Homo sapiens: one gene and its partners. The protein of the gene in region 3 purifies or fractionates together with the protein of the main gene of each other region. This does not show direct contact. Each region holds a gene or a part of one and is shown on either strand. Other genes may lie near its edges.

Evidence for each region.
Region 1: the proteins of SH2D1B (region 3) and ROBO1 purify together in Homo sapiens (affinity purification with mass spectrometry; one large-scale study listed by BioGRID and IntAct). This does not show direct contact.
Region 2: the proteins of SH2D1B (region 3) and TGFB1I1 purify together in Homo sapiens (pull-down; one study listed by IntAct). This does not show direct contact.
Region 4: the proteins of SH2D1B (region 3) and PRMT3 purify together in Homo sapiens (affinity purification with mass spectrometry; one large-scale study listed by BioGRID and IntAct). This does not show direct contact.
Region 5: the proteins of SH2D1B (region 3) and INPP5D purify together in Homo sapiens (pull-down; one study listed by IntAct). This does not show direct contact.
Region 6: the proteins of SH2D1B (region 3) and PTPN18 purify together in Homo sapiens (pull-down; one study listed by IntAct). This does not show direct contact.
Region 7: the proteins of SH2D1B (region 3) and DAPP1 purify together in Homo sapiens (pull-down; one study listed by IntAct). This does not show direct contact.

What each region holds. Positions count from the first base shown.
Region 1 is NC_000003.12:79,757,424-79,761,649, forward strand, and holds part of ROBO1 (roundabout homolog 1 isoform a precursor), read right to left. Parts: intron 1-4,226. UniProt on the Homo sapiens protein: Receptor for SLIT1 and SLIT2 that mediates cellular responses to molecular guidance cues in cellular migration, including axonal navigation at the ventral midline of the neural tube and projection of axons to different regions during neuronal development.
Region 2 is NC_000016.10:31,470,618-31,475,493, reverse strand, and holds the start of TGFB1I1 (transforming growth factor beta-1-induced transcript 1 protein), read right to left. Parts: upstream 3,343-4,876; 5' UTR 3,306-3,342; coding exon 3,293-3,305; intron 3,287-3,292; exon of another isoform or gene 3,271-3,286; intron 3,092-3,270; exon of another isoform or gene 3,045-3,091; intron 2,290-3,044; exon of another isoform or gene 2,244-2,289; intron 2,054-2,243; coding exon 1,938-2,053; intron 1,813-1,937; coding exon 1,760-1,812; intron 1,660-1,759; coding exon 1,517-1,659; intron 1,343-1,516; coding exon 1,255-1,342; intron 1,145-1,254; coding exon 1,039-1,144; intron 932-1,038; coding exon 737-931; intron 1-736. UniProt on the Homo sapiens protein: Functions as a molecular adapter coordinating multiple protein-protein interactions at the focal adhesion complex and in the nucleus. Links various intracellular signaling modules to plasma membrane receptors and regulates the Wnt and TGFB signaling pathways.
Region 3 is NC_000001.11:162,394,621-162,398,846, forward strand, and holds the end of SH2D1B (SH2 domain-containing protein 1B), read right to left. Parts: intron 2,696-4,226; coding exon 2,660-2,695; 3' UTR 648-2,659; downstream 1-647. UniProt on the Homo sapiens protein: Cytoplasmic adapter regulating receptors of the signaling lymphocytic activation molecule (SLAM) family such as CD84, SLAMF1, LY9 and CD244. In SLAM signaling seems to cooperate with SH2D1A/SAP.
Region 4 is NC_000011.10:20,488,375-20,492,600, reverse strand, and holds part of PRMT3 (protein arginine N-methyltransferase 3), read right to left. Parts: intron 1-4,226. UniProt on the Homo sapiens protein: Protein-arginine N-methyltransferase that catalyzes both the monomethylation and asymmetric dimethylation of the guanidino nitrogens of arginine residues in target proteins, and therefore falls into the group of type I methyltransferases.
Region 5 is NC_000002.12:233,062,916-233,067,141, reverse strand, and holds part of INPP5D (phosphatidylinositol 3,4,5-trisphosphate 5-phosphatase 1), read right to left. Parts: intron 1-4,226. UniProt on the Homo sapiens protein: Phosphatidylinositol (PtdIns) phosphatase that specifically hydrolyzes the 5-phosphate of phosphatidylinositol-3,4,5-trisphosphate (PtdIns(3,4,5)P3) to produce PtdIns(3,4)P2, thereby negatively regulating the PI3K (phosphoinositide 3-kinase) pathways.
Region 6 is NC_000002.12:130,365,745-130,369,970, reverse strand, and holds part of PTPN18 (tyrosine-protein phosphatase non-receptor type 18), read right to left. Parts: intron 839-4,226; coding exon 770-838; intron 207-769; coding exon 144-206; intron 1-143. UniProt on the Homo sapiens protein: Differentially dephosphorylate autophosphorylated tyrosine kinases which are known to be overexpressed in tumor tissues.
Region 7 is NC_000004.12:99,837,154-99,841,379, reverse strand, and holds part of DAPP1 (dual adapter for phosphotyrosine and 3-phosphotyrosine and 3-phosphoinositide), read right to left. Parts: intron 1,092-4,226; coding exon 958-1,091; intron 1-957. UniProt on the Homo sapiens protein: May act as a B-cell-associated adapter that regulates B-cell antigen receptor (BCR)-signaling downstream of PI3K.

The DNA of each region.
Region 1 (4,226 bases), on a different chromosome or scaffold from region 3:
AGCAACAGGCAGAACCAGCCCCAATTTTTTATTCTTGTCAATACTTGCTCTCTCTTTCTTTCTTTCTCTCTCTCTCTCTCTCTCTCCATATATATATATGCCATCCTAGGCTGGGCAGAGTGATTCACACTTGTAATGCCCGAGCTTTGGGAGGCTGAGGCAGGAAGATCACTTGAGCCCCGGAGTTCAAGGTTGCAGTGAGCTATGATTGTGCTACTGCATTTCAGCCTGGGTGACAGAATGAAACCCTATCTCTAAATAATAACTATAATAATAATAGTCACCCTAATGGAAATTAATGTCAAATTGAATCCAATATTTGAAAAAGAGGACATGAATATATCTTCTCACATGAAGGAATCAAAACATTAAGGGAAGGAATTATGACCACTGGCTCAATCGCATTTTTTATAGCCCAGTGTCTTAAAGGATGATGATTACTACACTTCCATCTCAGGAAAAGAAGTTGTGGTTGAATATTTAAAGAATTCACCAAAAATAGCTTTAACTCTTCTTTTAGTTCCTTTGATGGTTCACATTGTCATTACCTTCTTGATCAGGCTGAGATTATCTGTCTTTGCAGGACATGCTGAAATCTGCAAAGTTGCAAAATTATCCTTACCAACACAATCATTAGTATAATACAACTCTGTGGCAGCTATCCACTGAAAATTAAAGCATTGATGTTATTACCATGCCCTGTAAAACTATTTTATTCATAAATTCATCTCCTTCTAATTTTACTGTGAGTCTATTCTTCCCAACACTGTCCAATAGAACTTTCTCTGATGATGGAAACCGTCTGTATCTGCTCTATCCAAGACAGTAGCCACCAGCCACATATTCATTGCATAAAATTGGCTATCTAAACTGAAACTCTAAATTAAAATAAATTTAATTTAAAAATCAGTTCCTTTGTTGCACTAGCACATTTTCAGTGTCAATAGGCACATGTAGCTAGTGGTTAGAGTATTAGACAGTACAAGTTTAGATAAATACAGTGATATATTGTTGTCATCTTTGTCCTAGTTAGTCACAGTCTGATTATTAAGATTGACACAAATAATGCTGTACTAAAGGGTAATACAGGTAAGTGCTCAGTCTTATTCAAACACGAATGAGAGAGAGATGATCTTTCTATAGGAATATGATTCAGAAGGGTCATAACAATAAAGTTATATCTTGAAGGATGAACATATTCTCTACAGAGAGAAAAGAAGAAAGGTATTTTGAGAAGACAAGAAGGGGAAGGCAATGAGTTGGAAACAGAGTGGTGTGTTGAGGGAGGGTAAAGTGTACCTTGTATTGTAAGGCAGACTATACTTAGGAGACAGGTGGGGAAAGGGAAAGAACTTAGGAAAGTAGCCTGGAGTCTATGAAAGGCAGAGTGCTGAAGAACTCAAACTTGAAGTCATATAAAAAAGGGCCAAAAAGAATGAATAAAAGCACACAATAAATTTGTTCATTTTCCAAAATAATTTCTTTCCTTTATCAGAATTGTGACAAAAACCATTAACTGGAAGAAATCAAAATTATTGGTATGAATATAATTTATATTTGGTATAGAGATTAATTTTAGGTAAGCTTATGAATTTATGCATCTGTCATTGGCTAAACCAGGCCATTTTTTAACACTCTCTTAAATTAATACCCAATATTTAAATAATCCAATACTTGTTTAGCACAAAGCATGCTTGTTTAGTATGAGGTTTTTAATTGGAGAATAAAAAGTAAATTCTTACAGAATACTTTCTATGACTGCGTATAAGTAAGTGAAGTTGTTTTACAATCTTCCTAGTTCCTCATTCCAGGGTAAAATTTAATATAATATATACAATATGATGGAATAATTTCCTTTCGAAACATTTTGTGCTTGGATTAATATTTTTGAGTGCTTATTCAAGGGTTACACATTGATCAGAAGCTGTTGGCTGTTGTGCTGAAATGTTCTGTCTCCAGGTTCTAATTCACCTGGCAAATGGTCAGTCATGCAACAGTCGTACAGTGAGTCATGCTTCTTCCTTCCAAGTACTGAAGTCCATTTCTAAGGTTTACCTTTGCTATAGTCCTATACACAAGGAAAGTTCATCCTTAGTAAACAGGATTCATTAATATACTCTATAAAGAACTAAAACTAAGTAAATGACGCTATGCATAGCTAAGGACTCATTGAACATGAGCAATTCACATACGATTTAAAGAGATTATACAGTTTGTCTTAAAAAAATGGTCTTTAATTCTGGCTAAACATAATCCGATTTTGTTTGAAGTCTTAATTAATGCTTTTCACTTTGGTTCATTAACATTGTGATGATTCAGTGAGATGACCATCCACAAACCAACCTGACAGACAATAACCAGAAACAAGTGTCTCACATGAGGACAGATGCCAACCAGCCTTATAAACAAATGGCAGTGCTAGCCCACCCACATATGGAACACTTATGAGTGGCAGTCATATTTTTCAGCACATAAAACAAAAAATCAATTCCAGGTAGATCAAAAGACCTGAATGTAAAAAGCAAAACTGAGGCGGGGAGTGGTGGCTCATGCCTGTAATCCCAGCACTTTGGGAGGTTGAGGTGGGTGGATCACCTGAGGTCAGGAGTTTGAGTCCAGCCTGGCCAATAAGGTGAAACCCTATCTCTACTAAAAATACAAAAATTATCTGGGTGTGGTGGTGTGCATCTGTAGTCCCAGTTACTCGGGAGGCTGAGCCAGGAGAATTGCTTGAACCTAGGAGGCGGAGGTTGCAGTGAGCCGAGATCGCGCCACTGCACTCCAGCCTGGGTGAGACAGTGAGACCCTATCTCAAAAAAAAAAAAAAAAAAAAAAAAAAAAAAAAAAAGCACAAGTGAAAAATTTTCAGAAAAAATATAAGAAGTATTTTATGACTTCACCATAAAGATTGGTTTCCCAAAACAAGATGGAAAAAGGAAAAATGTAATAAAAGGTAATCAATTTTAACAAAGCACAGTGTATATCATATTTGAAAAAACGATACAAAATTATTTCCTTCATTAAGAAGAAAAAAGATAAAACAGCCTAGGAAAATATATTTCCAATGCAATACCAAAAAAAAAAAAAAAATAGAATCCAGGATATATAAAGAATTTGTATAATCTATAAGAAAAAAGATAAATGTCTCACTAGAGAAATGGGTAAAAATTATGTTTAAGCAATTCACAGCAAAAAAAAAAAACCTGAATGTTCTATGAAAACATGCTCACCACACTAATAATCAGAAAAGACAAATTAAAACCATTCAACTGGCAAAATTACAAAATGTGACATTATTAAATATTCATGGGGGCTTTCACAAGTATAAGAGATTATACAGTTTGTCTTAAAAAATGGTCTTTAATTCTGGCTAAACATAATTACAAATTATGTAATTTTGCAAATTACAAATACTACAGGGTACTGTTATGGGTTTGGGGGCAAAAAAGAGAAGAAACACATTACACGTCATCAGCAATTTCACTTCTAGGCAAATATCTAAAAAGTATGTGTGCACAGTGAGACATGTGCCAAAAAATTGCTACAGTCTGTTATAGTAAGAAAAATACCTATAAATGAGAGAGAAAAACATAAAATATAATACATATTTTAATACTGTATATATACTATAATATATATGCACTATATTATATATGAAATATATGTACTATATATAAAATATACTATATATTTTTACCATACCTACTAAATATATAATAATAATATATTTAAAAATATAATATATGTATATACTTATAGTATTTATAGAACACTATATTGCAATGAATATGAATAAAGTAACTGTACCCGAAGCAACTTGAATTAATCATAAAAAAATATTTCCAAGAATGCAAACAATATTTGACAATTTAGGCTAATATTTTATTTACTTAAGACAATACTATATATGAATTAAATATGTAATATATACAGTAAACTCAAGAGAAAATGCATAGAAATAATAACAGCAAATTTACCACACTGGTTACCTCTTAGAAGGGAGATTCAATCTGGAAGAGTACCCAGAAAACTTCAATATTACATTTAATCTTTTATTACTTAACCTGGGTGGTAATTCAAGGGAACTTGTTTCACTCATTTTTGTGTCTGCTAATCAAACTTGTCATAATAATAAAAAGTCAGAGTCATTAAAAGCTCCAAGTACTCTGCACAGCAGCACCTCAACTCTAAATGCCATGTTCACATGTGATTACTGAAATTCTGCT
Region 2 (4,876 bases), on a different chromosome or scaffold from region 3:
AATCGCACCACTGCACTCCAGCTTGGGTCACAAGAGTGAGAATTTGCCTCAAAATAAATAAGAGGGAGGAAGTGAAAAATCCGTTTTTAAAAATTCAGAATAAAAAAATGAACTAGAAGAAAATGCTGTAATACACAATAATAACATACCCATCTTTACACCAACACAGACATAAAAATCTATTTATTTTAATGGACGAAGGGACTCATGAAGATGAAAGTGCCTATGATCCACAAAAGTCACAATGCCACCCTCCTTTGCTGAGATGGGCAATTCTGGGCTGGGAGTCAGGTACTTGATCTAGCAGGGGGCACTAGGTTAACCCCTAGGCACAGCTGTTGTCAATCACATCTGCTCAGTCAATAAAACAAGGACCAGTGAACCCAGTCCAGACTCTGACGGAGGAAGAGAGAGCCTTTGTAGATGCCTGAGAGATATTGGGTGGAGCCACAGAGTGTTTTGTGAAGATCAGATGAGATGAGGGTTTGTAAAGGAGCTGGCACAGTGCCTGGCACACAGTAGGACCACAATAAATGGTAACATGGTTGGAATTTTCACCCTACCACTAACCTGCTGTGTGGTTCAGAGCTTCAGTTTCCTCATCCATAAAACATAAGTAATAATGATACCCACTTCCCAGATTAACTTACTAAAAGGGAACAGCATAAAGCCCAGCTCTCACTAAAGATGGGTCTGTGACAGGTCTCTGCCTCCCTTCTCACAAGGCTCCACTTACTTGCCCAGCAATAGGTTTATTGCAGGAGCCACAGAGGCCTTTGGCCTGGGTGGGAACACCCCGGCGGCTGAGGTCGGACTGCAGCAGCCCCAGCATGGTGTCTAGGCTGCCCTTGCCAGTCGGCTCTGGTGGGGATGGGGAGCCCTCATTTGTGGAGCTCACCACCGGTGGCTGAGTTGGCCCAGAGGCTGGAAGCTGCAGCGGGGAGGACATGAGAATTGAGTCAGCAAAGCAGCAGATGTGGAATTGTCTAGAAGGGGTTGGGGAGCCACAAATGGACACTGGCCCACTGCCCAACTCACATGGTTTTGAACGCGGAAGTCAGAGAGTGAGGCCATCAGTCTATCCAGCTCCAGAGTGGCTGAGGTGGCAGAAGCCTTTGGGAGGCCAGGAGACGGGCTGGAAGGGCTGTGAAGAACATGCTTGTGTCATCTCAGAGCCTCCCAGAGCAACGCTCCCTCTAGTGACTCAGATATCCAGGACTCATCTCTCAGCCCTGACAACGACGCCAAACTCACAGGCTGGGTCTTTTCTTATCTTCAGACTGGTCCTCCTTCTGCTCTCCTGAAGCCACCTTGCTAGATGGGAACTGAGACATGATTTCATCTGGAGAGAGGAGAGGAGGACGCTACATATAGGGCCATGCTCAACGCACCCTCACACTTGAGGCTTTAGGTCCCTTTAACTGCTACTCTGGGAAGTGTATTCCTCTTAGTCTCTGCCCCACCCTTCCCTCCCCTGCCCCTATCGCATCAAGGCCTCTCTCAGTCACCCTGGTACCTGTGATGTTGAACTGAGTGGCATTAAGTTCCTGAAGCAACCGATCTAGCTCACAGAGCCCGGTACCCAAGACACCGCTGGAAGAGGAGAATGGAGGGGCCGCCGGGGCTGCAGGCTTTGGGGACCGAGGCTTGCATACCGTGCTGGGAAGCAGAGTGGGAGCCTGGGTTCAGGGGTGGGGAATCCAAGCCTCCTCACCTGAGACTCAGTTGGCCCCCATGCCCTGGTTTCCAGGCCCCTCACCTGTACAGGTGGTCCTTGTCCCCCGAGGCTCCTGAAGACTCCCCAGACCCTGTCTACAGAGCGGAGACGCACAGGTGGGATGACAGGCCTGCACTCTGCCCCACTGAGGCTGAGATCCCCATAGACCAGGCCGAGCCTGGCCCTAGTGGCTGCCCCAGTCCCCAACATCCGATCTCACCTGTGGCTGGTGGCCATAGGATGGGGGAGGGGTGAGAGGCTCCGCAGGGCGCTCTTTGGGAGCCCCTGACCTTGGCATGTGCGAGGTGGTAGTCTCCAGGTCAGAGAGCAGGGCATCTGCAGGAAGAGGCCATCAGGGAGAGAGACAAGGGTCACGGTTAGATCAGAAGATAAGGTTCCCAGTGGGCAGTACTGGAGAAGGACAGAAGCCAGTATTAAGAGAAGAGGTCACAGGGCCAGAGCCAGGCAGAGCACTGCTCGAAGGGTAGCAAGGAATATTTATGACCAGAATATCCCAGTTGCTCACGCTTGGAGCCAAGCACAAACCCAGCCTCCTGATTATTTTATTCTCCCCATCTTCTCTGATGCAGTCAAAATGGGCTCTTCACCCAAGCCAAATTTGGCTCCCCTCCAAATTGCTCCATTGGCCCAGTGCCTGGCCCTCAGCTTTCTGATTGGACGCTCTCTCTTCCATGCTGGTTAACTCCTCCCTCTACCTACACAGGCCCCGCCCAGCCTGGCCACTCCCAGGCCCCTGAGTCCCGCCCTGGGCTCCTCACTGGCGCTTCGCTGGGACCTGCCTTCTGATTGGCTGTTTATCTGCGGTACAGCGTCAGTTACCCCTACCGAGCAGCGCCCTCTACCGCCAGGGGCCGGAAGCCCCTCTCTCCCGTGGAGCGCACAGCCTTCCAGCCCCAGGCTTCGCAGGGAGGACGAGATACCTGGGTCCCCCTTCCGGACAAGACACCTCTCTCCATCCCTGCATCCCCAGATCCGGGTCTTTTGAGCCCTTTCACTTCCAGAACCCAGAAGTCCTGCCCTCAGTCTTCGTCTCTGAGCACCCGCGTGAAACCCTGAAGCCTTCGCGGGCGCCTAGGCACTCCTGAGTTACTATTCTCTTCCTTGCCTCAAGGACCTGACCCTCACTGTGCTCAGGAGCCCTTAACTCCTCCTCTCCCAAAACTCTGGTGCAGGCAGGCCCGCTTTTTTTCTCCAAAACTTGATGCCAGACTTTCCCGTGCCCTCTACTTTCCCGGTCCCCGGGCCGAGGCCCCTTTAACCCCTCCCTCCCCAGAGCCCCGCGCCCGGGCGCCCGCGGGCGCCGCACCTCCCGTTCCATCTGCCGCAGCCTGGGATGGAGGAGCACAGCGAGGGAAGAAGGGAGGGAGCGGCCGGCCCAGGAAAGGCAGGAAGGGAGAGGCAGGAAGGGGGACGTGGAGTTGGAAAGGAGGCGCGGGCAGAGGCGAAAAGCAGAAGTAAGAAGACAGGGATGGGGAGATGCGGGAGAGCGACGGCGGGGAGGCAGCTCTGGGCAGCGGTGAGGGGCCACGGACCCGGGGATCCGGCCCCACTCACCCAGGTCCTCCATGGCGGGGCGCGGGCCGGTGGCGCGGGGCGAACAGGGCGGGGGCCGTGTCCGGTGGGGGCGGGGGGCGGGGGACGTCCGGGAGCTGGAAGCCCGGCCGTGACCATGTAAGGAAGCCGGGACCCGCTGAGATGGGGATGGGGGGGCGATGAACGGGGGAACCCGAGGTGGGGGCGTGGAAAGGAGGGAGCGCCCCGGCCCACCCGAGCCCAGCCCGCCGGCCTGCCGCGGAGGCGGCCACACCCCAGCCTTGGCCTCAGCTGCAGGGAGCCCCAGGAGGCCAGAGCCAGAGAGAAGTGGCTTCTCCAGACCAAGCCCCAGAGCCGCTCCCTAGGGAGACTTACAGACACGGACTGAGGCCCCCAAACAGACACCGCTCAAAGCTAGCGCCTGAGTCCTAGACAAGAGCCTCCCTCCCACCCATGCCATTCCTGGGAGACTTGTCCCAGACGGAATTTTTGGATTGGTAGCAGGAGTGATATTCTAAGGCTCAATTAGACCTCAGGTTCGGAGACCCTCCCATCGGAGACCCTGACAGATAAATAGAGGCCCCAAGAGGCATACATACCAGACACAAAGAAATCTGAGGGACGGGGACAGACACAGTGAACCCACCCACAGACTCTACACTAGGACCTTCCCTCCAAGACTTGGTCATGGACACACGTAAACTCGAACCCGGGCGCAAGCCCCTTGCAAATTCGGGGAAAACACTCCCAGGCAACCAACCCCCAGCCAGCCTGCAAGACAAAGCCCTTCCTCAGCACTGAGGTGGCCCAGGCCTGCTCTGAAACAGCCCTTTCCCAAGTTACTGATGAACTCAGAGCAGAAAGCAAGACACAGTCTCCAGCCACAAAGTGGCAAGGCCTTCCCTGGACTGAGACCCTGAGAAACGAGGTGGAAACGAGAGGCCATAGAGGTAGTTATGGACAGACAACTGTGCTGCAGCCACTCTTCTGGACAGATCTGAGCACTGGAATGTGAGTATCAACCCAGCAGCAAATCGGAACAACCTGGGGAGCTTTTTAAAAATGCGAGACAGGCATGGTGGCTCACACCTATAATCCTAGCACTTTGGGAGGTCAAGGCGGGCAGGTCACTTGAGGTCAGGAGTTCGAGACCAGCCTGGCCAACATGACAAAACCCCATCTCTACTAAAAACACAAAATTAGCTGTGCGTGGTGGTGGGAGCCTGTAATTCCAGCTACTTGGGAGGCTGAGACAGGAGAATTGCTTGAAACCTGGAGGCAGAGGCTGCAGTGAGCTGAGATTGTGCCACTGAACTCCTGAGCAACAGAGGAGACCCTGTGTCAAGAATAAAAAAGAAAAAGAAGAAAAAATGGGCAAACGACCTGAATAGACAGTTCAAAGAAGTTATATAAATAGCCAATGATTACATGAAAAGATCCTCAACATCATTAGTCCCCAGAGAAATGCAAATCAAAACTACAATGAGATGCCACATCATACCTATTAGGATGGCAATAACAAAAAAGACAGGTAATTAGGCAAGGAGCAGTGGCTCACACCTGTAATCCTAACACTTTGGAAGGCCGAGGTGGGTGGATCCCCTG
Region 3 (4,226 bases):
TAGTAATTGAAGATGCCCCCCCACTCCACCCCACCCCACCCCACCAGAGTCTCAAACTCAGTTTTATAAGAAAGTACTGTACTAAAAAATGTCAAGGAACAGATAAGTTTATTTTTATTTATTTATTTACTATATATATATTTTTTGAGATAGGGTCTCACTCTGTCACCCAGGCTGGAGTGCCCTGACATGATCTTGGCTCACTGCAACCTCCACCTCCCGGGTTCAAGCGATTCTCCCACCTCATCCTCCTAAGTAGCTGGGATTATAGGCGTGTGCCACCACACCTGGCTACATTTTTGTATTTTTGTAGAGACAGGGTTTCACCATGTTGGCCAGGCTGATCTTGAGCTCCTGACCTCAAGTGATCCCCCCACCTCGGCCTCCCAAAGTGCTGGGATTACAGGTGTGAGCCACCACACCCAGCCCAGAACAAATAATCTTTACCTGAAGAGTTGTTGCAGAAAATGGTAAAAGGAAAAAGACTTTTCTTCGCTTTATATGAACAGTGTAACCATGATTCAGTAAATTATAGTCCTATTTGGTTTATGAGTTTTAATGCAAAAATCTTAAATGAAATATTAACTTACCAAATTCCACAGTTTATGAAAAATAATAAAATATTATCAAGTGAAGCAATGCAAGGATGAAATGATATCAACAATTTTATTAAGGTAACTTACCTTTATAATGGAGTGAAGACAAAAGGAATGTGACTATCTCAATAGATTAGAGATAGAAAAAAATCACAATAAATGTCAAAATATTTCTAGTAAAAATTATAAAATAGCCTTTAACAAGGCTACAACAAACATAATGTTTAAATAAAGAAAATTTCTAAGCATTCCCTGTAATACTGGGAACAGTGTAAGAATACTCACTATCATGACTATGAACTGTTTAATGTATACAGGAGGCCCTAACCAATGGGTAAACATAAAAAATAAATGAGCATAGGTATTGCAAGGAAAGAGAAAATAAAATGTTATTATTTATAGCTGACAAAATCATTTACATAGAAAACACAATAGAATCAACAGGTAAACTAGTAGATCTAATGAGAGGGTTAACATTTCACCAACACCATATCCTATTAGAAATGTAATAAAACATAAGATATCATTTACAGCAACTAGAAATAGGAATTAATCTAACAGAATATACAAGACTTCAGTTGGGAAAATTTATGACTCCATGAAAGGGCAAAAAAGATGACCCAAGAACATGGATGTGGCATGTTTATGCATGGGAAAACATCACAAGAACGTCAGTTCTCTCCTATTTACAAATTTGTTGCAAGTTCATTAAAAATTCCAAAAAGAGGTTTTAAGCAATTTCACGTATTTATTATAAAATGTATATAGAAGAATCAAGGTCCATGAATACCTAAGCCAGTTTTGAAAAGTAAAAGAGGACATTTGTCCTACCTACCAGACCCAGGGAATAGTAGCCATAAATTGCTGTGACCCCAAATCTCACAATGCTCCACACTTTGGGGCTCCAGCCACAGTGTCTGTTCATCTGTTCATATTACCTCTAAGTCGAGAGCTCCTCTCTTTTAAAACTCTGAAGATAAGTCCAGTGGGGTGAAATACATTACTACAATTTGATGATAGGTAAGAGAAAGGGCATAGAATTTGGTATATTTCAAACTGACCAGGTCCTAATTCACATTTTGAACTAGCAGAAAAATTCAGCAAATCAATTTCAGTAAACCTTAAAAACCAATTCAACAAACCTCCCTCAGCAATGTGCTTCCAGTCAGTTTCTATGAACTAGGCACAGCTCTGGGCAGCACAAATTTCTACACACTGTGGAAGATACAAGGGAGACCCAACCGTGCTTTGATGGCACTTAGAACCTAGTTGGGAACAGAAATCACACATAGAATATTTTAGAAATCTCCACATACATCACTGTACAGAACCACATTCATGCTGTTGAAATGACTGATGCATAAGTGGAATTAAGCAAAACCAGGGAGAAAGTGTGGCTGGGGCAATGCTCACCAGGAAGTTTAAGATTAGAAAGAACCAGGAGGAGAGTAGCCCAGGCTGGAGGGAGAAGGGTGCACATGGGGGTCCAGCAGGTACAGAGAAGGTGCTGATCTGTATGCATCTCCATCACTCCCGATCCCTCACCTTCACCTGACACAAGCAGGCTCAACAGAGAGACTGGGGCAATGTTTATCATCCCACCCAACCACAGAGACAAAGAAACTAAGACCTGGAGATGGGCAGAAACGTGTTCAAAGTCACACAGCCACAGGACTGGAACTCAGGGCTTCAAACTCACAGACAAGTGTGCCCCTCCTCTGTATAAAGCTGCCCCTCTGACTGCATGGTCCAAAGGAGGGTGTCAACCATGATGTAGGGTGGTACCTTTAACAAGTCAAAGGGAAAATGTTCAGGCTGTCCCATTCCAAGAAAGAAGAGTGAAACTGGAGAGGGTTTTGAAATTGCTCCTGGTATATGTCTGGGAGGCGGGGATGTGGAGAGTGACCTCTGGTGCTGGTGGGCAGAACATCTTCAGTTACACAACCAGGAGAGTCTGAATTGTCCACTAGAGTTTGGTGCTCTGGACCTATGCCTGCAGAAGTGGGTCATCAGTGAGAACTGTTACTCATCTCTTCAACTTGCTTTGTCCGGCAGCCTTATCTTCAAGGCAAGACATCCACATAATCGCTGTTACTGTTCTTTGGAGGGAAAAAAAAAGCAGAAGACCAGCCATGAGACCACACCCAGAAGTCATATCAAACAACCCCACTCAAAGGAAAGAAGACCCCTCCCCAGGCACAGAGCCATGTTGATGCCACCTGAAAGTTGTATCTTTAAAGGCTGGGGTACTACAGGGAGCCCTCCTAACAAAATAGGAGATCTCTTTATAAGCCAAGCCTCAGACCTTCCAGCACAAGTGTCTCCATTCACCAGCAAGAAATCTGCACCTCCCTTGGAGTAAGAACATCTGAAGCTTCTTCTAAGGAAGCAATGGGAATGGGAGGAAGAGGTTGATGGGGAATATTTCCTCTTCAGTAGCTGAGAATTTTGGAGCCTGCTGTGTCAGCACTGACCCGGCATGGAAAACTGATGGAGTGAGATTCATGCCCAGGTCTTGGGGAAGATTTCTGAGGGTTCTCCTCCTGGGATTTATGATTCTTTTCTCATTGTTGAGACAAATGCTACCACCACCCCAACCAGTCCCAGCAACTCATCTGGGTTTGCCTAAGGGCTGCAGCACAGATACATTCCTGGGTTTCTAGATCTGCCACACTGTATACTTTTTATTCTATAAATTTGGGGGGGAAAGTAGCTGTGGGACTACATCTGCAGCTGGACCTATAGAAAGTGATTTTTTTGTGTCCATGAGTACACACTGCCCTTCATGGGGATGGGGGGACAGGGACACAATGGTAGGGAAGGGAGTTGTATTTTATGCTTAGCCTTGCTGGGGAAATGAGAAGCCGGCTATGGCAGCCTAAAGGGTGACTTTGCCGCAGACAGAGTAGAATGGGGATGGAGTGATTGCAGGCTCCCAGAGAACTCTCTGTCCTCTGTCCCTCTCCTAGGGAGGATATCTGATCTCATCCCATCACCTGCCACTGATAACTGCCATCCCTTTCACTGAGAATATAACCACACATTCCAACATGGGAAAACAGGATTAAGACCTAAGTGTTTCTGGAAGTCTGAGCTAAATTCAAACAACATTGCAACTGATAGTAAATTCTTTACTGAGAGCAGATTTCAAGAGTGTGGGTAAGGAAGAGTAGCTGCTCATGATATAATTTGAGAGGCTTAGGCAGGGATTCTCTGCACTCAGATTTACTGACCATCTCTCATTTTCCACTACGGCTTAATGCCTTTAAAAATGTATCTGACATAATTTGACACCCAGCACTTTATAAATGAATGCTTAGCAAATATTGAGCAAAGTGTAACAGTATACGCTTTGGGGAGGGCTTGAAGGGCTAGAGTGATTTTCTCATTTGAAAATCTGCCCATTTGCCCATTTATTCTCAAACTTGAATCGTCTGCACAAGGTCACAGAATGAATTTGAAGTCAGCTGTCTGCCCAGGAACCACTCTTGCTATCCTGGCTGCAAACGCAGCAAGCTCTCTGTCTTGGCCCTCAGGGACTAAAAGACAGCACTTCTCAACAAAATGGAAATTGCTCTTAGTAGGATGAAGCTTTTTAGAGATAATGTCACAGAAAAGAGCATTTGTCTG
Region 4 (4,226 bases), on a different chromosome or scaffold from region 3:
TTTTGAAAAATCATGGTAAAGCTAATTTGTGTACTCTGCTACTTTTGTTAAAAATGTGACATTTTATTGATCTGGTAGGGTTAATATGGATTAGGTCCAAACCAAACTCAATATTTAACCCTGAGGTTCACTGCAATTTAGATACCAAGAGAGAATCAAAATACTAGTAATAATTCTGCCAAATAGAATTATAAAACAATGTAGTACTCAGCCACAGATTATCATAAAAACCACGTGGTTAATTAGAATATTTCTAAATATAACTTTATCAGTTGATTTCCAGATACTTATGATACCCCTTCACAGACCAATTCAACTGTTTTCTTATTTATTCCTGTATGCCTGTCTTGTTCACCACTATACTCTCAGTGCCCAGAGCAGTAACCTGGCCCATAGGATACAATACAATACAATATTTGATGAGCAAATGTGTTTATTATACATTCTGTTATGTTAGTTACGATAGTATATTACAGTTTGCCTTATACTGCAATTTATTTAAGAGCAAGGCATATGTATAACTCACTTCTATGCCCCTTACCCAATACAATGTTATATAGTAGGTTCTCAATAAATTTTAGCCAAATTAAAATTTTTAGTCTTCAGTCTCAAATATGGCTAGCTTTATTACATAGTCAGTATACTTTATTAAAGCATTGACTAACTGAACTTGAATGGAACTAATAATTTTTAACTCTGAAAAGCATGGAACATGTGGGACAAATATGGAGAGGAGAGAGCTAGAAAAGATCTAATTCTGTATGTAGGAAATGCAGAAGTCTCAGCCTAACCCCCAAATTACGCATTTTCAGGTGAGATCCAAACCCACACAGCAAAAGCTTAGAGCATTGAACTAAAATTTGAATCACTGCTGCAAGTCTCAGGATTAACCTCTGGATAAAACATGCATGGAAAAAAAACCGAAACCAACAAGTAAAGGCCTAGAGAACTGACGTGAGATTGGAAAAATCTGTAAAAGTCTCAGACTAATCCGTAAACTAGGTATGTGTAAGACAGCCTCAAAACAGCATAACAAAGGCTTAGAGAATGTGACTGAGACTTGGTCAACTGTCTGCTCGGACACTAAGACAGAACTTATGGTCTGATTTTAACTGGGCTTGACTGCTAACAACAAACATCAACATCCTTAAGATTTTAACAAGACACACAGTTTACACAACATAGCATGCACAACATCTAAGGTGCAATCTCAAATTACTCAACATACAAAGAATCAGGAAAATTGAACAACTCTCAGGAGAAAAGACAAGCCACCTCTGAGATAATCCAGATGCTCAAACTATCAAGCAAAACTTTAAAGCAGCAATTATAACCATGTTCCAACGGTGACAGAAAACACAATGGAATGAATCAAAAGACAGAAATTCTCAGCAGAGAAACCATAAAAAAGCACCAAATGAAAAATTTTCAATTGAAAATTATAATAACTGAAACTTCCGGGTTGAATAGCAGAATGGAGATGACAGGGAAAAAATCAGTGAATTTGAAGATTGATAGAAATTATCCAATTTGAAGAAGGGAAAAAGACAGCAATTAAAATGCATGTTATAGAACCTTGGAGACCTATAGATCTAACGTGTCATTGGTGGTCCAGATGGAAAAGAAAAAGACACTGATGGAGAAAAAAAAGTTTTAAAATTCTATATCTAGACAGAATGAATGAAGGCATTTTCAAGTCAAGGAAAAGTAAAGAAATTCATTGCCAATAGACTTCCTCTAGAAACATTTTAAAAGAAGTTCTTCAGAAGGTAAACTGGAACAACAAGAACAGAAAACCCATAGTTCTAAAACATCCTTTTGTTTTCAAAATTTTTAGTGTACCTTTTAAAATTGTTTTAAACTCATGTAACAGCCTCTCATCTTTCTGTAATTATACTTCTATAACTGTTATATTTATTGCCAGTCTTTTTTTAATCAGAATTAGAAATGCTTCTCTTCATGTATCTGAAGATGTCACAAAAGCTGCTTTTAAACCCAAATTTTCACAAAAGCTCTTATTAGCTTACTAGGATTTATTTTTCCCCACATTTTTTGGGGGGCCTCCCAAAGCACTGGGATTACAGGTGTGAGCCACCACGTCCAGCCACACATGCTTATTAATCAATCTCCAAATCTGTGTATGAATTTCAGTTAAAAATTTCCAGCCCTTAATAATATAGTGAAAGAAATACTGGGAAGTTCTGGGTAACCAAAAAATAAGTTTTAAGACAAAGAAAAATGACAGATATAGTTAACTTCAGTTGTAAGCACTGGAAAGAATCTATGACAAATATCTGAAATTGCATCTATGTGAAATGCCTCACAGTATCTTTGAGTCTTCAAGCACAGTCACATTTCTAATGAGGTTTGGTTTACAGTAATACTCAGTTCCACAGCACACATTAAACAGAAAGCAGAAGCATGAGGAGAAGTTAGGAAGGAATTCACCTAAAATTCAAACTGTGTGCAGATAATCTATCTACTCACTAGACAGCATTCGTACAGTTGAGAAAGTGGAAGATTGCTGCTCTGAAAAAAACAAAGGGAGTTTCTGGTTTTAAAATGGGTGTCTACCCTCAAACACCAACATGATCTAGAATGCCCCTTAAAGAGACAGGGTTTGTGGTGTTACCTTTTTTTCTTTTCTTTTCTGTGTGATTCTTATTTTTAAAAATTTTTATTTAATTTTAGAGATGGAGTCCCGCTATGGTGCCCAGACTGAAATCAAACTCCTGGGCTTAAGGGATCTTTCTGCCTAAGCCTCCTGAGTAGCTGGGACAACAGTTGCATGCTACTAACTCTTAATTAAAAGAGATTAAGAAAAAAAAAAACCCCTTCAATTTGAAACATAGTAATATAAAACCAAATGAATTATGATTAGTGTTTTTATTTCTGCAAAGCTATTAAATAAGGAATAATGATATAACCAAATATCAGCTGATTTAGGAATAAATGACTTATTTTGTCAGGAAAATATAAACATGCCACTATTTTCAATTACAGTTTGGCCACCTTGCTACCATCACTTTGACAGGCTATCTTAACATCTTTTAAATGTTAATTTCAATGAATATACATTATCTCTGTGGAAGTCATTCAAATATAAGAATAAACAACCATAGGAAATAATGACTAATAGGCAATGGCAACAAATAACTAACTGGAGCTACAACTTGACATATGCTCGTAAAAGATCAGAGAGGTCTGAAGGCTGACTGCAGAAGAAATTTCTCCTTTGTCTCACGTATATATCTTGTTGGGGCAATGAGAACTGCTGAGGGGGAAAAAAGCATTAAAATCTATCTGTAGGAGTTGGGTTAATCTGCAAAGGCAAGGTCACAGTTAAATAAAATTTCACTGAATTATACCACAGTCAGAAAAATTTATAACTAAAAGTTTAGTTATAAAAGTCCCTTAGAGTGAGAGAAGGGAGAATGAGTGGTAAGTAGTAAAAAAACAAAAACAATGATAGAAGAAAACAGAATGAAAGGAAACTACGTATACATAGTGAATTTCTGGGATAGCTTGATCACTCTTGATATTTTGTGAGAATCCTCGACAATTACTTTGATGCACATAGGAAAATACAAGCATGGAGCTCTGTTGTACATCTTAAATATTCCTCAGCATGTAATAGTTTCAGAACTCATCTTTTTGTGGATTTCACAAAAAGAAAACTCATGGCATTTGTAAACTGAATCATGAAAAAATCTGTTTTAAGCCATGTTTTGTTTATATGTATAAAGGTAAATGCAGTTCATTTAATATACACTCATTTGAAGAACAATGATTTGGGATAAAAAATGACTTTCTCAGGTATTTTAGTGTGATGAATATTTCTTTAAAGAGGACACATTGTGTGTATGTAATAGGATGGCAACCAATGAAATAAGATCAGACTAGACCTTATGAGGAAGAAGGAAATTAAAAATTATCATTATCACTATCACCTGCAGGGAGTAATTTATCATTTCTGTTCTTCATTGGTATCATGTTCCAACAGCATGTGGTTACAGCAGATACAATTAGGCAGCTGGCCACAGAAGTAGGAGGATAATGTGCTTTTGATGGAGTTTATCCAAGCATGGAGATAGAGTGCTTGTAATCCATGCAGCAGAATCACTATAACAAAAATACAATTCATTTTTCGTTGAAGTATTTCTTTCAAAATCTCAATATGGAATGCAAAAGCCAACTGATGAGTCTGAAGCAAGCAAAGAAAGAGT
Region 5 (4,226 bases), on a different chromosome or scaffold from region 3:
ACAGTGGTGTTGGTTTCACAACATTGTGAATGCACTAAAAGCACGATAAAGAATTGTATACCAGGGCCAGGTGCAGTGGCTCACGCCTGTAATCCCAGCACTTTGGGAGGCCTAGGCGGGCAGATCACCTGAGGTCAGGAGTTCGGGACCAGCCTAGCCAACATGGTGAAACCTCGTCTCTACTAAAAATACAAAAATTAGCTGGGTGTGATGGGAGGCACCTGTAATCCCAGCTATTTGGGAAGCTGAGGCAGAGGATTGCTTGAATTCAGGAAGCGGAGGTTACAGTGAGCCAAGAACACACCATTGCATTCCAGCCTGGGCAACAGGGGTGAGATGAGACTCTGTCTCAAAAAGAAAAAAAAAAATTAGCCGGGCATGGTGGCATGCGCCTGTAATCCCAGCTACTCAGGAGCCTGAGGCAGGAGAATCACTTCAACCCGGGAGACAGAGGTTGCAGTGCGCCGAGATCATGCCACTGCACTCCAGCCTGGGCAACAGAGCAAGACTGTCTTGGAAAAAAAGAAAATTAAGAATTGTACACCATAGAAAGGGTGACTGTATGGAATATGAATTATACCTCAATTTGAAAAAATAACCCAACGAGTGGGCTTTGGCCTTGTCATCCTCATTCCACCTGTGAAGATGCTGGGTTGACACAGGAAGGTTAGCATTTTGCAAATGCAGCCCAGCAGAGCCAGCAGACCACAGAGCCTTGCTCCTCAGGAGTGCACAGCATGGCACGAATTATTGAGGGAAGAGCAGAGCTCCTCTCACTCTATGTCTGGGGTGGGGAGAAATGCCTGGCTGTGAGGACCACATGTCATCATGACGCAAGGGTTCATGTGCAGGGAGATGGCACCAATTGATTGAGAGGTGCTGATGTGAGGCTGCGTGCAGCGGCTCACACTTGTAATGCCAGCACTTCGGGAGGCCAAGGTGGGAGAACCACCTGACTCCAGGAGTTGGGGGCCAGCCTGGGCAACATAGCAAAACCCTGTCTCTACATAAAAAAGATTAGCCAGGCTTGGTGACTTGCACCTGGAATACCAGCTACTCGGGAAACTGAGGCAGGAGGATCGCTTGATCAAGCAAGGCTGCAGTGAGCTGTGATTGTGCCACTGCACTCCAACCTGGGCAACAGCGAAAGACCGTGTCTCAAAAATAAAAAATAAAATAATAATAATTTTAAAAAAAGGCCAGGTGCGGTGGCTCACACCTGTAATCCCAGCACTTTGGGAGGCCGAGGCAGGTGGATCACGAGGTCAGGAGTTTGAGACCAGCCTAGCCAACATGGTGAAACCCCATCGCTACTAAAAATACAAAAATTAGCCAGGTATGGTGGTGGGTACCTGTAATCCCAGCTACTCAGGAGGCTGAGGCAGAAGAATTGCTTGAATCCTGGAGGTGGAGGTTGCAGTGAGCCAAGATCATGCTATGGCACTTTAGCCTGGGCGACAGAGCGAGACTCTGTCTCAAAAAAAAAAAAAGAAAGAAAGAAAGAAAGAAAGAAAGAAAGAAAGAAAGAAAGAAAGAAAGAAAGAAAGAAAGAAAGAAAGAAGGAAAGAAAGAAAGAAAAAGGCTGGGTGCAGTGGTTCATGCCTGTAATCTCAGCACTTTGGGAGGCTAAAGAGGCCAGATCACCTGAGGATAACACAAAAAAAAAATTAGCCCGGTGTGGTGGCAGGCACCTGTAATCCCAGCTGCTTGGAGGGCTGAAGTAGGAGAATTGCTTAATCCTGGGAGGCGGAGGTTGCAGTGAACCAAGATTGCACCACTGCACTCCAGCCTTGGCGACAGAGCAAGACTCTGTCAAAAAAAAAAAAAAAAAAAACCCAAGAAGTGCTGATTGTGTTCATGAATTTATGAATTTAACCTACCAGGTAGACAAACATGCAAAGCATCAAAGCTGGAGCCTAATCTCTGGACCCGAAAGGACTTTTCACGGGGGCTGAGCGTAGGCACAGAAAACCTGGAGACTCCATTTTAACATGCTTGCTCTGCGTCACTTCACATGGAAGATACAGTTAGTGAGTGAAATACATAGGCCTTCCAGGGCACATACCCCTTCCTGGTCTTGCATGCAGAGAGAAAACCCGGCACAGTCAGCCTTGGATAAAGCCCCTTGGCCGGCTTTCTGGTGTGAGCCAGATGTCAGTAGCTCTGGCTACGACCTGGGCCAGCATTTTTTCCCACTGACTGTCAATATCAGATATGAAAAATAGTGCCTTATTGCATTTGCACAAAAACAATTAACAGTGTCTATTTTACTGAAGCTTCGAAAGGGAGACTTAGCCACCCGCTCACACCACAGCTTTCCAACTCTGTTGGACTCTCTGAGATTAGGAGTTTCGCCCTCCCAAGTCCCTTCTCTGCGGCTCCATCACGAGAAGTTCCCTCTCCAGGCTCTGCCCCGCCCCACACAGGCCACCTTATGGTCTCTGTTTCTCGCTTCCAGGAAGATCATGCATGCAATCCTGGCCCTTTTATTTGTTAGTCCTGTAAACTAGGCCTGTTCCATAAACCGCTCTGCACCTCGGTTTCCCCATCTGTAAAGTGGAGATAATAAGACCTCCTTTGAAGGTCTTCGTGGACATCAAATGAGTCAATATAAGCCTAGAATGGTGCCTGGCACAGAGCTCTTTGGAAGTTGCCTGCTGTTATTAGGCGGAGCAGGTTGGTAACAACCTTCTGCTGGTGAAGCCAGGTCTGTCCGGTGCACTGTCTACACTGCCCCTGGGAAGGGGTAAGCAAGACCCTGCCATGGTGCCTGGGTGGCCTGTGGAAGGCCACATGTGGAGGGAAACCAAAACCACACTGTCAGCTGTGGCCAGACCAGGCACTGGGTTCTGAGCCAAAGGCAGCCACGTGCCTTCGCCTCCCCCATGAGGGAAGCCCCCTCTCTCTGGAGTGGTTGGCTGGGAACGCCGCCCTCCTGCGCAACTCCAGGCTGGATGGCAGACAGCTGAGCCGGCCACTCTAGGCCTGATCCCGGGCCCCAGCTGCTCCTGCAGAGAGGGCAGCCTATATACTGACATTGGGCCTTTGATCAGCTTTGCCTGTGCAGATTGCACAAGGGGATGCCGGCTCGGCCAACCCATGGACCCTTGCATTGACTGACCCCATTCCCAAGGCATCTCTTCTTTGCAGCATAAGGCCCTGCCAGGTGTGCTGGCCCCTGCGTGGCAGGAGAGGGCATGAGCCTGACAGCTCTTAATGTCTCCCACCCACGATGTACCCAACGTCCCCTGGAGGCACCCACAGACTCCCCCCGGAGCAGGGCCAACTCTGCCGGGGGATTTGAGTGGGGACCAGGTGGGGACAACATAGGCTCTACTTAGAAGAGCCCCTGGCTGAAAGACGGCAGAGTTGGACCCAAACCAGGCAGCCACCTGCTGGAGTCTTCCCACTGCAACTGTCTGTGCCCCGAGATGGAGCCCAGGCTCCCTGTCAAGCAGGGCTTTCCAAGCTGCTGAGGTGAGATCAAAGCTTTCCTGCCCAGTGGTAGGTGACGGGGCTGACCTCTCTCGAGGAAATGCAGGGTTTGCTGGGTGTGCGCAGAATGTGCACTCCTAAGTCACATGGGTGGCACTGAACTGTAGCCCTGTCTTTTGATGTCCAACCCCCGCTCAAGTCCATTTACATAGTCAAATCCTGTTCTCTTTCCTGAGCACAAAGGCCCCTCCCTGGTGAGGCTGCTCTCAGTTCCTGAGACTCCAGGCACACTTGCCCAAACCATCAGGTGGAGACTCCGGCCGTTGTCCCCTTGCCCACCAGAGGGGGCCTGGGAGGGAGTGCTGCTGGGGCCCAGGCAGGATGAGGTCAGGGCACCTGGGTGATCTGAGGGGCCATGGGGCAGGTATACTTTTCCCATGGACTTTGCTAGGGCAGGAGGGTGAGTGTGTGGCTTCCTTCTGCAGTCACTTCTAGAGCAGGGTGGCTCCAGGCTTCCAGGGCTAGGGGGGCAAAGCCTGCTACTTCTGCAGCCGCAGAAAACCCGGCTGCCCTGCACACCCCTCAGCCTGGGACTGTCTGCCTCTGCCGTCTCCGTCAGGCCACGGCGACTCTGCAGGGAACACAGAAAACTAAGGGTGGTAGGGTTTGTTTTTCAAGAAGTTCAATCTCTTTGCTTTAAATGACTGGCTTTTTTTTTTTTAATGCCCTTCCTGCCTCTTTTGGTGTCAAAGGCTGCTTTCTTTCAAGAAATGAGGTGTTGGAAGATGACA
Region 6 (4,226 bases), on a different chromosome or scaffold from region 3:
AGGCCCACTTCTAGGCATCTTCCATTTATGTCTACCAGACAATAACTGAGGAAGTGGGTACTAGTATGATGCCCATTTTTACAGGAGAGGAAACCTCTCCCCTTTCAGGAGCCCCTTTACCTCCTCCTCCCCTGTCACAGTACCTTCTGGAATGTGACCTTGAGGGTCCTGAGCATGATGTCCTCATTCAGCCACTTCTCCTTTATCTGAGTAAGGGGGGTGGGGCAAGTAAGAAGAGGGAGGAGAACAAAGATCATAGGTACCAGAAGACATTTATAGAAAGCAAAGCATTCCTGATTAAAAAATCAAATACAGAAAACATTTTAAAAATTCATATAGCCCAAACTTTCCCCAAAGCTTTCATTAAGGAAACATTTGACACAGGAGCAAAAGAGGAACTATTATAAAAACACAAGCCCTTTTGCAATGAAAAGAGATGTCTTTTGTTCTAAAATGAAACTTTTATTGCATTTATTAAGTACTAACTGTATGTATGACTTGAGAGAGTTCCCCAAGCTCTTTTGAAATGGTAAGAGAAGTAAGAATTTCAACAACCTAACCAGGCACATTTACATGACAGAGATTAACTGATTGTAGCCAAAATAAAAATGCAAAGGCTATCCCTATAGTAAGTTCTAACTATTTGCAGGCTAACACCAGAGGGTTTCCTGCAGTATGAGTGGACTGTGGGTTAAATCATTCAACCTTTTAGGCCCAACCCAAAGCCTTTCCACCCTGGGAATCTTCCTTGAAAACTCCCACAGCTCACCAGAGTGATGCAGAAAAGCCCAGTCTGCAGTGGCTCCTGCTCCTGGGCCCAGTACCGCTCACACCTTTTCTGCAAAAGGTAAGGGAGAAAAGGCAGGGAGTGAGAAGAGGGAGTCAGCTTCAGAGCTAGCTCAATCATGCCACAAGACACCCCAGGTGCTCGTGGTGGAAGCACAGGCAGCTATACTTATAACCTATAACAGACGCCAGCCAACAGAGCCATCAGATTAAACACATGCAGACTCAATGGAGGTGCGCTGCTGACCATGCAGGGGAAATACAGTCCAGGATACCCTCCCACTGTAAGCAACTAGAAACTGGACAAAATACATGAGCCACTATTTTCAGACACTGGTTGGCAGGTGTTGCAGTACTGTGGTCACTGAACAGACCACTCCGGCTTATTGCATGGAAGTGTCACCAGGCTGTAAGACATGAGTCTAATGATCCCACTGAGTTGAGCCAGAGACCATGGCTCAAGGAGGCAAAAGCAGCTAGAATTTGCAGGGCAGAGTCCTGGAAGGAACAGAGGTATGCAAATAAAAACAAAACAATAACTTGCATAGAAGTCCCCTCCTTGATTCTTTGGTTGAATAATCTGAATATATACAACATGAAACCCCATGAGGCCAGGCAAGAATAACTTACCATGAAAGAATAGTAGGGATCTGTAGGATGAACATTTCCTTGAGCTCATGATGAGAAAGAATTCACATTCCCTCTAGCTAGAGTGTAGAGGCATTATCAACTATAAGGGGCATTTAGTAGGGAACCTAGAATGACCACACATTAGAAGTACGGCTAAATTAATTCTAGAACAAAGGCTACTTGATCAACCATCCAAAAGTTCCTGAAAAGGCAAAACACTCTAAAGAAAACAATCCAACACTTACCTGTGCAAAATTCAAAATATCAAGCATCCAATAAAATTTTGCTGGACATACAAAGAAGCAGGAAAGTGTGACCCATAACCAGGAGAAAAATTAGTCAATAGGAAAGGGCCCAGAAATAACAGTTCAGGAAAGAAGCAAAAATCTTAAAATGGCTATTACAAATACACTCAAAGATGAAAAGGAAAACATGAACATGATGCAGAGTGGAATGAAAGATACAAAAAATAACCTGAATGGAATTTATAAAGAGGAAAAATAAAATATATGAAATGAAAAATCCACTAATAGCAGGGTAGACACTAGAAGAAAGGATCAATAGACATGAAAACATAGCAATATAAATAATTCAAAATGAAATGAAAAAAATGAAAAAGAATCAGTTCTCTGTAGAAATATACCAGTCTAGTGTATGTGCACGTGGAGTCCAGAAGGAAAGGAGAAAGGGGGATAACAGAAACTTTATGTAAAGAAATAATAGGTGAAAATTTTCCCAAATTCGATGAAACTATGAACCCACAAATCCAAGAAAGTCAATGAACCAGAGGGAGAATAAACCTAAACCTAAAGAAAGTCACGCCAAGGCAGATCATGATCAAATTACTGAAAAAGAATGAAGAAGAGAAAAAAAAATTTTTTTTTGAGACCCTTGCTCTGTCACCCAGGCTTGGCGTGCAGTGGCTCAATCTCGGCTCACTGCAACCTGCAACTCCCAGGTTCAAGCGATTCTCCTGCCTCAGGCTCCTGAGTAGCTGGGATTACAGACACACACCACCATGTCCAACCTTTTTTTGTATTTTTAGTAGAGACAGGGTTTCACCAGGTTGGCCGGGCTGGTCTCGAACTCCTGACCTCAAGTGATACACCTACCTTGGCCTCCCAAAGTGCTGGGATTACAGGCATGAGCCACCACACCAGGCCCCAGAAGAGAAAATCTTAAAAGCATTATGCACAAAAGGACACATCACATACTGAGGAACAAAGTTAAGAATTATAGCAACATTTTGTCAGAAACGGCAAGTCAATGCTATGATATCCTAAAAATGCTGAAAACCTTTTCAGACAAATGAAAGCTGAGGGAATTCATCACAAACAAATCTGCATTATGAGAAATATTAGAGTAAGCTCTTCAGATGCTTACAGACAGTGGCTGCTCCAGCTATTTGAGAGGCTAAGGCAGGAGGATTGCTTGAGGCCACTTCAACACCAGCCTGAGCAACATAGCCTGTATCTTAAAAAAAAAAAAAAAAAAAAAAAAAAAATTAAAATTAGCTAGGTGTGTTGGCAACATAGCTAGCCTGTATCTAAAAAAAATCTTTTTTAGTTAGCTGAGTGCAGTGGCACACCTGTACTCCCAACTACTTGGCAGGCTGAGGTGGGAGGATTGCTTAAGCCCAGGAGTTTGAGGCTGCAGTGAGTGGTGACTGCACACTGCACTCCAGCCTGTATGACAGAGTGAGACCCTATCTCTTAAATAAATAGAATAAGTAAGCTCTGCATACAAAAGGAACGTGATACAAATGGAAATACAGATCTACACAAAATAACAGGGAGAAAAGTAAGTGGCTAAATGTAAAAGATATTTCATTTTAAACATCTTTAAAAGATAATCTAGTGAATTTTATCAAACAAAGAGGAATTAATACCAGCCTTTCACAAACTCTTGCAAAAAACTGAGAGGAACCATTTCCCAACATATTGTATGAGGCTAGTATTACCCTGGCACCAAAACCAAAGACATCACAAGAAAAGAAAACTACTAACCAATATCTCACAAACATAGACACAAAAATTCTCAATGAAGTACTAGCAAAGTATTAAACACCATGACTAAGTGGGATTAATTCCAGGAATGCAAGATTGGTTCAACATATGAAAGTCAATGTCATACACCATATTAGTAGAATACAAAACACACGATCATCTGAATAGATGCAAAGAACAAAATTTGACAAAACTCAACAGCGTTTCATAAAAAAGTTCATTAGAAACTCAGTGCCCAGGATTTTTATTGGGGCACCGTCTGCACAGAATGTAGGCACACTCTGCCTAGCCTGTACCAAAATGTCAGACTACCAGCAGGAGAACAGGTGTTCTGCATAAAGCATATTGTTTGTATTAACAGTTCAGGCATAGTGAGCCACTGTTATCAGAAACCTAGGTTTCTAGAGGCCACCCAAGAGTCAACCTTACAGGAAGGCCTTTCTAAGCATAAACATTTATGCTTGCCATGTTTAACTCTTCTGCACAGCAGGGGACCTACCCAAAATAGCCAAAACAATCTTGGAAAAAAGAACAAATTTGGAAGACTCATACTTCCTGATTTCAGAACTTCTACAAAGGTATAATAATCAAAACTATGTTACACTGGCACAAGGATAAACACATCAATCAGCTTAATAAAATTGAGAGTTCAGAAATAAACCCTTATATTTATGGCCAATTAATTTTCAACAAAGGGGCCAAGACGGTTCAATGGGCAAAGCATAGTCTTTTCAACAAATGGTGCTGGAACAACTGGATAGTCACATGCAAAAGAGTGAATGTGGACCCCTATCTCACATCACA
Region 7 (4,226 bases), on a different chromosome or scaffold from region 3:
CCGCTGTGCACTTCATGTATACTAGACACTGTGTGAGTCACATCAGGGACTACCCACACCACATAAATAGCAGAAAAGACAGAAGCCAATGATGCCATCTCTTCCCATCACACTGAAGTTAACAGAAAGCCCACTGGCAAGTTTGCCAAGAAAACACGTATGTACAAACTCATGGTAACTGGTTGTGTTATTAAGTCTTGAGTTCCTCTTGTGCCGCAGGTTCTTGGAATTTCCTAGTCTTTGATTAACTAAGATTTATCATTATTTAGGACAAAAGTGTTGTGATTCTATATCACAAATACAGGGATGATATTTTACTTCATTAAAATAATATAAATAAACAAGATGTTCAATCTTAGATAATTCAAGTGCCAAGATAGACTGTTTTTTGTGTTTTTTTTCTTTACACATGAATTTTTTTCTGGTTTAATTCTCTAACCATTCAAACAGGAAAATTCAAACTTTTCCAGCCATAGTTAAGTCTAGCTTAAAATCTTATTTAAAAAACCGTGACAATAGAAACAGAATTTTATAACTTAGGAGAGTGCTTCCTAGTTAATATTTTCAATATTCAGTGATCTCTGTGAACATTTAAGTGGGAATTTTAGTTTTTAAAATGCTCAAAATTTACTTCTGTGGGTCTCACTCATATGCAAACTGCCTATATCTGAAATTATGAGTAATCAAAAAGTCATTTTTACCTTTGTTCTTTTTGTGTGTATTGTATATGTTATTTTAAAATGGTGAGCCCATTTTAAAGAAATTGTGTGCTTTTAATCAATCCATTAAGTAACACATTCTGAGAAAATATCTACTTTATACAAAATACATTGTTTTCTCTTCAAGATAATGCTGAAATATAAATGACAACAATGACATTCTTAAATTGAAATCTGCCTTGTCTCTCCTCCATCCCGAAACATTATTTCATAAGTCAAGTGTCTGCTCATAGCTTACCTGTCTCGCTTCCAATCAAAGGCTGATTTGCAAAATGCTTGACAAAATCCTTCAAAGATGAGAATTCATTAAAGCCAAATTTAAATGAATATCCAGTATATTCAACATGAAAGTGTTTAACAGAATCTTTGGCCCTAAAAGGGAAAAAGAAGTATTTAATATTATTTAACAAATAAATATCTTGTTGAAGGGAAATATGATCTCAGATGTTAGCATCACTATTAACCCTTTATAAGAACTGAGAATTAGGCAATCATTGAAACCACTGACAGTTTTAAATAGCATCACTAGTTTCTTTTGGCAGAGTTTGCTCTTTTCAACTTTTATTAATTAATTAATTCATTTATTTATTTACTATTTTGAGACAGAGTCTTGCTCTGTCCCCCAGGCTGGAGTGCAGTGGCATGATCTAGGCTCACTGCAACCTCCGCCTCCTGGATTCAAGTGATTCTCTGGCCTCAGCCTCCTGAGTATCTGGGATTATAGGTGTCTGCCACGATGCCTGGCTAATTTTTGTATATTTAGTAAAGACTGGGTTTTGCCATGTTGGCCAGGCTTGTCTTGAACTCCTGACCTCAGGTGATCCTCCTGCCTCGGCTTCCCAAAGTGTTGAGATTACAGGCGTTAGCCACCACGCCCAGCCTCAACTTTTCACTCTAATGGAAGACAAGAGACTGTTCTCCCTATCTACTCCTAGACTTACCAAAAGAGTCCTTGAACATTATGCTGCTAAGGGGCATGAGTTTAAGAAGGGCAGAGAATAGGAATGATAGAAATGACATATGACACCCTCACCACACTCTCCTCTGCCTTGGGCTTTTCTCCCTTGCTTGTTTGGGAGTCAATCAGAATTCAGCTCTGTCGCTTGATTAGTTACGTGAGCCTAGCCCTTTTCCTCCCGTGCATGTTCCACTGCCTACTGAATAAAATATCAAATTTCCTACATTGTCATTTTCCACTTCATTTTTGAAATGAGGCAGAGTATTAAACAATATATATATATCTATATATATATCTATAGATATCTAATCTATATATATCTATAGATATCTATATATATCTATATATATATATCTGCCTCTCCACTTTATTTGATCCCATTCTATCTTTCTAGCCTCACTTCCTGCTATTACTCTCAGTGCAGCCCATGCTACCATGTTAGCATGCTTCAGAATCATCTGATGGGCTTGTGAGAACCCAGCTTGCTGCCACCTCCACCTCCACCCCTGCAGATTGAGATTCGGTAGATCCAAGGTGGGGCCTGAGACTGTGCATTCCTAGCATGTTCTTAGGTGACACACCTGGTCTGGGGACCACACCTTTAGAACAGCTGCCCTAGTCCAACTGGATCTACTGCTCTTCAAGGAGTTTCCACTTCTGTCCCTTAGTTCATACTGTTCCTTTTTCCTGAAACGGTCTTTCTCTTTGTCTCTGCTGGTAGAAATCCCAGCCACTCATTAAGGTGCAGTTCAAGTACCACCTCCTCTGTCAAGTATTACATGATAATTCCAGCTTAAGTTAACTGCTTTTTCCCTTCTGAACCACCTAAACACTTATCTTGCTTTCTTTTATGTTATTTGTCAACCTCTACTTTGTAGTATGTTACTTGTATGTGGTCTTTTTGGCTCTGTGAGGCTGTAATTCCCCAAAATAAGGTATTTCAATCTTCTACAGCAGGGATCCCCTATCCTGGGGCTGCAGACTGGGTACCTGTTAGGAACCAGGCCGCACAGCAGGAGGTGAGCAGTGGGTGAGCAAGCATTACTGCCTGAGCTCTGCCTCCTGTCAGATCAGTGATGGCATTAGAGTCTCAGGAGCCTGAACCCTATTGGGAACTGCACATGTGAAGGATCTAGGTGGCACACTCCTCATGAGAATCTAATACCTGATGATCTGAGGTGGAACAGTTTCATCCTGAACCCGCATTTTCCACAAAACCAGCCCCTGGTGCCAAAAAGGTTGGGGACCACTGTTCTACAACACGTACCAAAGTGGCTGGTGCAGAATAAATGCTTTCAAATATTCATCATTAAAAGAATGAACAAATAAGTGAATATTTGTTCATAAAACAAAAATAGTCATTCTCCTGAATTAGTCTGTGGTTTTTGTCACCTCTGCTGGTCATTTTTTTAATAAGCATTCTCTAGTGCTTGCAATGAAAATCAATAATTTATTCTTTATTTTTTATGTATATGAAATATGTATGTCATTGATTTATAAAAAGCTTATGATCTAATTGCTCAGATGAGACATACATAGGTGAAAAGTTAATTAACTTTTCATTTTTGGAAGATTCATGCCAGGGGTCCCCATCCATCCCCCTGCCAGCCACGTAGCAAGAAAACGAGTGATGGGTGAGCTAGCGAAGCTCATTTTTATTTATAGTTGCTCCCCATTGTTTGCATTCTCAATGAGCTCCACCTCCTATCAGATCAGTAGAGGCAATAGATTCTCATAGGAGTGCAAACCCTATTGTGAACTGCACATGCAAGGGATCTAGGCTGTGTGCCTCTGATGTTAATCTAATGCCTGACGAACTGTCACTGTCTCCCATCACCCCCAGATGGGACCATCTAGTAGCAGGAAAACAAGTTCAGGGCTCCCACTGATTCTGAATGATGGTGAGTTGTATAATTATTTCATTATACATTACAGTGTAATAATAACAAAAATAAAACACACAATAAATGTAATGCACTTGAATCATCCCAAAACCATCTGCCGCTGCTCCGGTCTGTGGCAAAATTGTCCCTGGTGCCAAAAAGGTTGAGGACCTCTGATGTGTGCAATAAAGCATCTACAACTTAACCATTAGATGAACTTTTAACATTTGCTGTTGAGCAGAGAAAGCACAATTCTTGTTGCCACTCAAACAGAATTCCATCTTGGATTAATAATTTTTTCATCTATGTTATTCAGAAAATTTATAAATAAAATATAACAGGGTGACATGAGAAATGTTAATGAATATGCTTGTTTTTCCTCTGTGACCCCTACTTACCCCATCACCCTCTACCTGTTTCGCACACCCACCCACTTCAAGTAGGCCTGTAGATTTTCACTGTTCCAGGAATGGGAGTTGTGGCAGGCAGCATTCTAAGATGATCCCAAATCCCAGCCCCTGGAGTACACACACTTTATCCCAATTATTCAATCAAAAACTAGTCTACATGCTACTGGGAAGGGATTTAGCAGGTCATAAAGTCCCAAGTCAGTTGATGTTAAGATATGGACATTATCTGAGTGGGCCTGAACTAATCACATGAGCC